Linked DNA regions of Homo sapiens. The protein of the gene in region 2 purifies or fractionates together with the protein of the main gene of each other region. This does not show direct contact. Each region holds a gene or a part of one and is shown on either strand. Other genes may lie near its edges.

Region 1 (4,012 bases), on a different chromosome or scaffold from region 2:
AGAAATTGGCTAACATCTAGATTGTGGCCATCTCGTCTGTCAGCTTCTTCACATTAGGGAAAAAATAAGGATTTTTCTTTTTCCACAGGCATCATGCTTTTTTTACTCACTATTTTTTTGCAACTGAGTTGAATCTTGACATTCAATTAAGAAGATGCTCACAGGAATCTGACAATGTGTACTACAAGAAAAGCTCCCACTTCTTCAGGTGGAAGGCAAGGAATCCCTTCATGAAGTGCTTGACAAATACTTTTTTTTTCTTTGACTTGACAGGCTTTGCTCCACAGTTCAGAAAAGCTGAAAGGCTGAAAGTCTGCTTCAGTATTTGAATTGTCCCCAGAAAAACTATATGAAACCAAGTATGTTATTTCTTGGCTTTGGCTTGGGGGCAATGAAGGTGGGGTTGGGGAGAGAAAGAAGTGCATGGAAAGGGTGAGGCTGGAGTCAAGAGAAAGAAAGCACTGGGGGTCATTACTTCCTGCCAATTTCAGTTTCAAAAGCCAACTCCTCCAACTTGCCAACAGCCCTCAACAAATTCTCATTGTCAGAATGAACACTTATCAAAAGTAGTTTCATTTGGGAAGGGTTTTTATGATACTAATAAAACTTTAAAGCTTCTCACTGCTGATGAATGTAGTTTACAAAAAAGGTCTCAATAATATATAACCATTTGAAAAGCAATACTGATCTAGGAAAATAGCAAACCAAAGCAGAGACAAAAAAGAATTATTTAAGCCAAATATTGAGTCTAAGTCCCAGCAACAAGACAACCCAGGACAGCAGATTTAAACCAGACAGATGTGGGTCTATGAGCGGGGAGAAGCAAGGAATGCTTCCAAATGTGGTCTGAGTTAAACAATGTGAGGAAACGGTAGCTTAGAGTTGTCGGGTCAGATGGGAAGAGTACCTAAGACAGTTTAGGACTGCTCTGTGAAGTCCTGATTTACAGAGCTTCATCTGCCAATAATTAGGCCAACTTAGACAAAAGCAAGAGAGAGCTCAGACTAGCTAAAGTCAGAGATGATGCAGCCAGCAATGGCTTGGTTCCACATCATACCTTTGTTTTATTCCATAGATATAAAACTCGCCCACTTGCTCTACCATGCATTCTTTATTACAGCCATTAAATACGAAAATCTTCTCTTTTTTTTGAGACACAGTCTCACTCTGTCACCCAGGCTGGAGTGCAGTGGCGCAATCTCGGCTCACTGCAATCTCTGCCTCCTGAGTTCAAGTGATTCTCCTGCCTCAGCCCCCTGAGTAGCTAGGACTACAGGCACCCGCCACCACACCCAGCTAATTTTTGTATTTTTAGTAGAGACAGGGTTTCACTGTGTTGGCCAGGCTGACCTTGAACTCCTGATCTCAGGTGATCCACCCGCCTCAGCCTCCCAAAGTGCTGGGATTACAGGTGTGAGCCACGGTGCCCGGCCCTAAATACGAAAATCTTAAAGGTGAAGAGCAGAAGTTGGCTCAGTATCTTGGCTCTAAAGCTGTCTAGAGCTGCTGGGAGAAATACTTGAGCTCTGGCTGGGCATGGTGCCTCACACCTGTAATCCCAGCCCTTTGAGAGGCTGAGGGGGTGGATCACCTGAGGTCAAGAGTTCAAGACCAGCCTGGCCAACATGGTGAAACCCCATCTCTACTAAAAATGCAAAAATTAGCCGGGTGTAGTGGCACATACCTGTAGTTCCAGCTACTCGGGAGGCTGAGGCAGGAGAATCGTTTGAACCCAGGAGGTAGAGGTTGCAGTGAGCCGAGACTGTACCTCTGCACTCCAGCATAGGACACAGAGCGAGACTCCATCTCAAAAGCGAAAACAAACAAACCAAAAAACTGAAATACTTTCAGCTTTTTGGAAGGCACATTTAGATCCATGGCTGTGGAGAACCTAAAGCATGTTCTTCTCTGTGTAGCCTATGCAGCTACAAAAAAACGAGATAAGATTGCTGGAGTTTGTCAATGTGACTTCCAGGTTCCCTTTTAATAGCTAAGTCAGCCTTGCAAAGAGTCTACTGGGACAGTATGAATGGAAAATTGAAGGGAACTCACTCAGTTTTTTAGGCCATACTGCATTTTAAAGCTTAAATTATTTGAGTCATCATCTCCATCCTCTAATCTGCATGTGTGCTCAAGAACGCAGGATCCCTGGCAACATCAACTTCCTAAATTGTTAATGTTGGCTGGTGTCAAACAAAATCTGATCTTGAAGCTGTTTGGTTTCACTTGGATTTGAAGGGACTTGTTTGTTCAAAGCTCATGTTCTAAACCTGTTTGATTTTTATCTAAAGTCGGATTGCCATGGTTTCAGCACATTCCAGTTTACTTAGCAAAATTCGGCCCTTGTGAAATTGGCTGCAAATGAAGTACCTACTTCCAATTTTAGGCATAATCTGATTAGTACTTTTCATATTATAATAATGAGCAGTGAATACTCAGCATTTAAAAAATTTTGGCTCAGAATGGAAACCAAGCTCTTTACACTTCATCATTCTGTACATTTCCAAAAACAGAGGATGGCTTTTGAGGTAAGTTGCCATACGACACCCTTATTAACCGGCTGTTGCTTGTTACAATTTACATAAACCAAGTGTGCATCCCTCTGGTATATATCCCAAAACACTCAACAACTTCAGTGAATTTACCCCAACCAGCGAGCATGTTGAATTTTTTTTTTTCTTTTTGGTATTTTCAGGGTGAAGTATTTGACTGTGCTAGCAAACACGCCCATGCCATCTGTTGGGTTGGGAGGAAGGCAGTTTCTAAGAACAATTAAGTTTAGTTCTGGGTGTTCAGTTCGAGAGAGTCACAGTCCACCCAGTTGTGAAAAGAAAGAAATTCTGTTCATTTTATTCTCTTTTTCCCTCTCTCTGCCACACACACTGTACTTCTTGCTAACAGCGCTCTCAGCTCTCTCATCTCCACCACCTCATCCTTCACGCTTCACACTTTCCTTCTTTTTCTTTCTCTCTTTCTTTGGCTCCTGGTTGGCTCTGACCATCCCTCCAATATCCATCTTAGGTGGATTAGCAAGAGGCTGCCTGGCTGACCCCAGCTCTCAGAAGGGCTCTCAGGGTGACCTGCTACGACTATTGGGAGGTAAGTGCTTCCTGGAGGAAGGAGAAAAAGGAAATTAAGGTAAAAGCGGTCACCCCAAAAAGAGCTTTTATGGGGGCTTTTATATCCTAGGAGTAATACAGGTTGTTTAAAATGAGGTTTGAGAGGGACTGCATTCTAAATGTGTTAACACTACAGGACAGCCTTGGTGAGCCATTCTCACTGTGGAATGAACTTGTCCCCCAAGATCTGACAAGCTGGAAATGACTGAATAATGGAATTAAGGCCTTTATCAACAGTTACATTAGAACTTCGAAGAGACTAATTACCATAGCGTGTTCTGGATCATGTTTGATCCAGAGGTGGACTCTGCCCAGGTCATAGAGGAAGTTGGCACAGATTACAATCTTTGCAGGCCCCCATTCTAAAAAATGGTGTTCCCAAAGTTGCCGCATTCAATCGATATTTCGTGCCATGCTGCTCAGTGCAGTGGACCAGTGGCTAATAAACTTGTCCTTATCCATAAGCCACCGTATTAGGTGACTCTGTCTGGGCCAGGAACCAAGGCGTGCTATGATTTCAGAGACTGGATTCCTATCACCTGGGGAAGAGACACGCTCTGGTGACGTAAGAAAGCGGAGAAATCAACCATCACCAAAACCTGCAGACTCTGAAATTAAAGGAGAAAATATGCGTGCAGTTGGTTCAATTGGCACCCATTAAAGCTAATAACTAATCATCCTCGCAAGTTTCTAGCTCAGAATGATCAAATCTGCAAAGAAAACAACATCCGTCCACTTTTACACTCCAGTGGAAGAGGTGGTCCCTCGCGGCAGGGCGGCACAGTCTCGCCATCTGGAGAATAAATCGAGTGTGAAGTACAGTATAGTTTGGGACCAAGCTCCGTGGCGGCAGCTCAGCAGTCAGTTCATTAGTTCCAAACTTCCAGGGATTA
Region 2 (3,600 bases):
GCCTGTAAGGACCCTCAGGCCAGGGGTAGGGGAGATGGCTTGGAGTCAGGCCACAGCAGCTGTCTATTGGCCAGTGGGAAGGAGCAGGGCCATCACTTCTGGATGGAGGCCCTGGCTCTGCCCTGCCAATGCCCCCAGTCTGGGTAGGGAGACTCCAGGGAGGAGTCCTGCAACCTAAGATGCCAAATCTTAGGTTGTAGTACAGAGGTGTGGGTTGGCGCACAGGCCACCAGCCATCTGGCTGGTGAGGGAGACAGGAGGAGAAGGCAGTAGAAGGGGAAGAGAAAAGGAAGGGGAAGGAGAGGAGGAGGGAAGAGGAGGCTGAGTCTGGGCAGAAAAATGATGAGGCGTGAAAGGGGCCCGTGAGCTGGGCTGGCACGGAGGCACGACCATTAGCATTTCCCAGGCGGCCGCCCTCGCCTTCAGCCTCACCTTCCCTCTGGCCAGTTGGTGGGCAGGGCCAACAGCGGCTCTGGGCTCCCTTGCTTGCTCAGAGTGGCCCTGCTTGCAGCCCCGCCGGCGTTGGCACGGTGACAGTAGCCAAGTGTGCAAACTTGTCCCATTGTCCGCAGGCCAGGGGGAGCCATGGAAACTGGCTAATATGACACAGGAAAATGTTTGCTGATGGCAATTCTATGGGCTTTGTCCACCTCTTTCTCCATCATGACGACTCGATTTAAGTCCCTAACTGTTTGACTACAAATGCAAGGGGACCGTGCAACGCCAACCTTTTGTCCGGCTGCGCTGAATGGGCAATTCAGGCTTTGTGCAGCTCAATTGAGGAAGCAAACATAAAGACAAGATTCCTGAGAGCTCCAGCTCCCTTCCCATGGATATCCCAGCACCTCGTTAGAGAGTCCTTCCTCGGCCACCTTTTCCGACAGGCATCAGCGCACCTCCTGACCTTGAAGGCCCTCCATCCCCGATCCCTGGGGGATCCTGGCAGGGAGGGTGGTGGGGGTGGCAGGGGGAGACAGAGAGAGAGACAGAGAGACAGGAGAAGAGAGAGTGAGAGCGAGAGAGCCACTCAACACTCAAGGACAGCGGGAAAAGCAGCCCGCCCCGGCTTACCCCGTCCGATTGTCTGTCCGCACTGGAGCATGGCAGCTGTAGGCCTGGAGTCTTTGGGGGAGGTTTGCAAGCCTGTCTCCACTAGGCCCAGCCCCTTCTCAATCCTGGACATTTTAAACACACACACACACACACACACACACACACCCCACCCCCTTGAGAAACCAGGGAACTGAGGTCAAGGGGAGGAGGGGGGTGGAGGCTGAGGAGAGTGGGGCTGAAGGGTAGAAATTTACCGGGAAATGATTGCATTTGGGAGCTGTCTTTTTTGTGATGGTCCCCATGGTGACAATTTGTGACGGCAAAGAATGTGGGAACGGGGCGCCGCCGCCTGATTGGGATGCTTTGTATCTGGAGAGGCGCTCCTGATTGGCCTGAGGGGCCCCCCAGCTCCGGGGAGTTGTCCTCCATTCAGCCCACTCAAGGGTTGCACAACTGCTTCCAGCCGGACGGAGCTCGGCCGGCTGCGCCGGGGCCTGTCCCAGGTCTGCAGTGGGGAACCTGCCGGGCCACGTTGGTGGGGCCTGGGCCGCACCTTCGGTCAGTGTGGAGGCCCGGTGGCTCTGGCCCGACTGGGTGGCGGGTGTGGGGGCAGGCTGGGGCCTGGGGGAGGGGCGAGGTGCCGTGGGTGGCGGCCGAGGAGGCATGAAATTGCTGCAGATGCTTCTTCGGGGGAATCCCTGCTGCCCGCAGCCTGAGATCAGCCCGCAAGGCAGGTCTCGATTAAGTGCCAGACAGGGGTCCTGCCTGGTCCTGCGTGAGAGCTGGGGGTGGAGCGTGGGGACTGAGGAGGGGGGCTGGTGCTCCTCGTGCTGGGGGCAGGAGTGGTGGGAGGGGGAGGCTACCACCAGGGAGGAAGGGGGCTTGGCCTTGCTTTAAAGAGGAACAGTTGCCTCAGCTCAGAGAATAAACACCTCGCTGGCAAGTTGCACACGTTGGCAGCGTGGTGTGTGGGAGATGGGGCAGGCTGGGAGTGTGTGCCAGCCCCAGCAATGCCACCTGTAGCTGGGTCACCTTGGGCGACTTGCTTGACCTTTCTGAGCCTTGGCTGCAAGAAGGGGCACCAGACCCAAGCAGGCTGGGCGAGGCTCTGCTGGTGCCTGCCGCATCCCAGGTGTGCAGGAAGTGCTCAGCCACTTGCACCCACATCCCTCTACCCAGGACTCTGTTTAGGGCTGAGAGGTGCTGGGGTGGGGAGACTGTTTGTAGACAGGTGCTGTGGTCTTTTGGGAGGGCTGGGTGTGGTTGCTTGGAGAGACTCCGATGGCCTGTTTTGTCCCCCAGGTCAGCTCGGTGCCCTTCCTTGGAGCTGCCGGCCACCAGCAGAGCCTACCCTCTTCATGGAAAGCCTCGTGCAGTGGCCCCCTGGTGATGGCATCCGACAGTGATGTGAAGATGCTGCTGAACTTCGTGAACCTGGCGTCCAGCGACATCAAGGCAGCCCTGGATAAGTCCGCACCCTGCCGCCGCTCCGTGGACCATCGCAAGTACCTGCAGAAGCAGCTCAAGCGCTTCTCCCAGAAGTATTCCCGGCTCCCGCGGGGCCTTCCTGGCAGAGCTGCTGAGCCCTACCTGAAAAGGGGGTCTGAGGACCGGCCCAGGAGGCTGCTCCTGGATTTGGGCCCTGATTCCAGCCCCGGCGGGGGTGGGGGCTGCAAGGAGAAGGTGCTGAGGAACCCCTACAGGGAGGAATGTCTTGCTAAGGAGCAGCTCCCACAGAGGCAGCATCCAGAAGCTGCCCAGCCTGGCCAGGTGCCCATGAGGAAAAGACAGCTGCCCGCTTCCTTCTGGGAAGAGCCAAGGCCCACCCACAGCTACCATGTGGGGCTGGAGGGGGGACTGGGCCCCAGGGAGGGACCTCCCTATGAGGGTAAGAAAAATTGCAAGGGCTTGGAGCCCCTGGGACCTGAGACTACCCTGGTGTCCATGTCTCCAAGGGCCCTGGCTGAAAAGGAGCCGCTCAAGATGCCTGGGGTCTCCTTGGTGGGCCGCGTCAATGCCTGGAGTTGCTGCCCCTTCCAGTACCATGGACAGCCCATCTATCCGGGCCCCCTGGGGGCACTGCCTCAGAGTCCTGTCCCCAGCCTGGGCCTTTGGAGGAAGAGCCCAGCCTTTCCCGGGGAGCTGGCGCACCTCTGCAAGGATGTGGACGGCCTGGGGCAGAAGGTGTGCAGGCCCGTGGTGCTGAAACCCATCCCCACCAAGCCAGCCGTGCCCCCACCCATCTTCAATGTCTTTGGCTACCTCTAGCCACGCGGAGAGGGCCTCAGCCCCCACCTCTGGCCTGCAGGAGTGTCGAGGTCCCCGAGGCGCTCTCCTGTGAGGAGGTGGCTGGGCCACAGTGTGGCCTCTTCCGTTTGTGTGCGCATGGGAGTGGAGGGCAGGATTGGGGCAGGGCTCCTCAGGCAGTGACCCTTCAGCCTTGCAGCCTTGGAAGCTGGGAGGCTGGACCTGGTTGGCCCCTCCCCAGGCAGGCCAGGGCCCAGCAGCTTGTCCCGCTGTCCCTGTGCAGACCATAGGTACTGGGAT

What was found.
Region 1: the proteins of FAM181A (region 2) and CLYBL purify together in Homo sapiens (affinity purification with mass spectrometry; one large-scale study listed by BioGRID and IntAct). This does not show direct contact.

What each region holds. Positions count from the first base shown.
Region 1 is NC_000013.11:99,854,454-99,858,465, reverse strand, and holds part of CLYBL (citramalyl-CoA lyase, mitochondrial isoform 1 precursor), read right to left. Parts: intron 1-4,012. UniProt on the Homo sapiens protein: Mitochondrial citramalyl-CoA lyase indirectly involved in the vitamin B12 metabolism. Converts citramalyl-CoA into acetyl-CoA and pyruvate in the C5-dicarboxylate catabolism pathway.
Region 2 is NC_000014.9:93,925,844-93,929,443, forward strand, and holds the start of FAM181A (protein FAM181A), read left to right. Parts: upstream 1-1,500; 5' UTR 1,501-1,611; exon of another isoform or gene 1,612-1,783; intron 1,784-2,355; coding exon of another isoform or gene 2,356-2,442; coding exon 2,443-3,321; 3' UTR 3,322-3,600.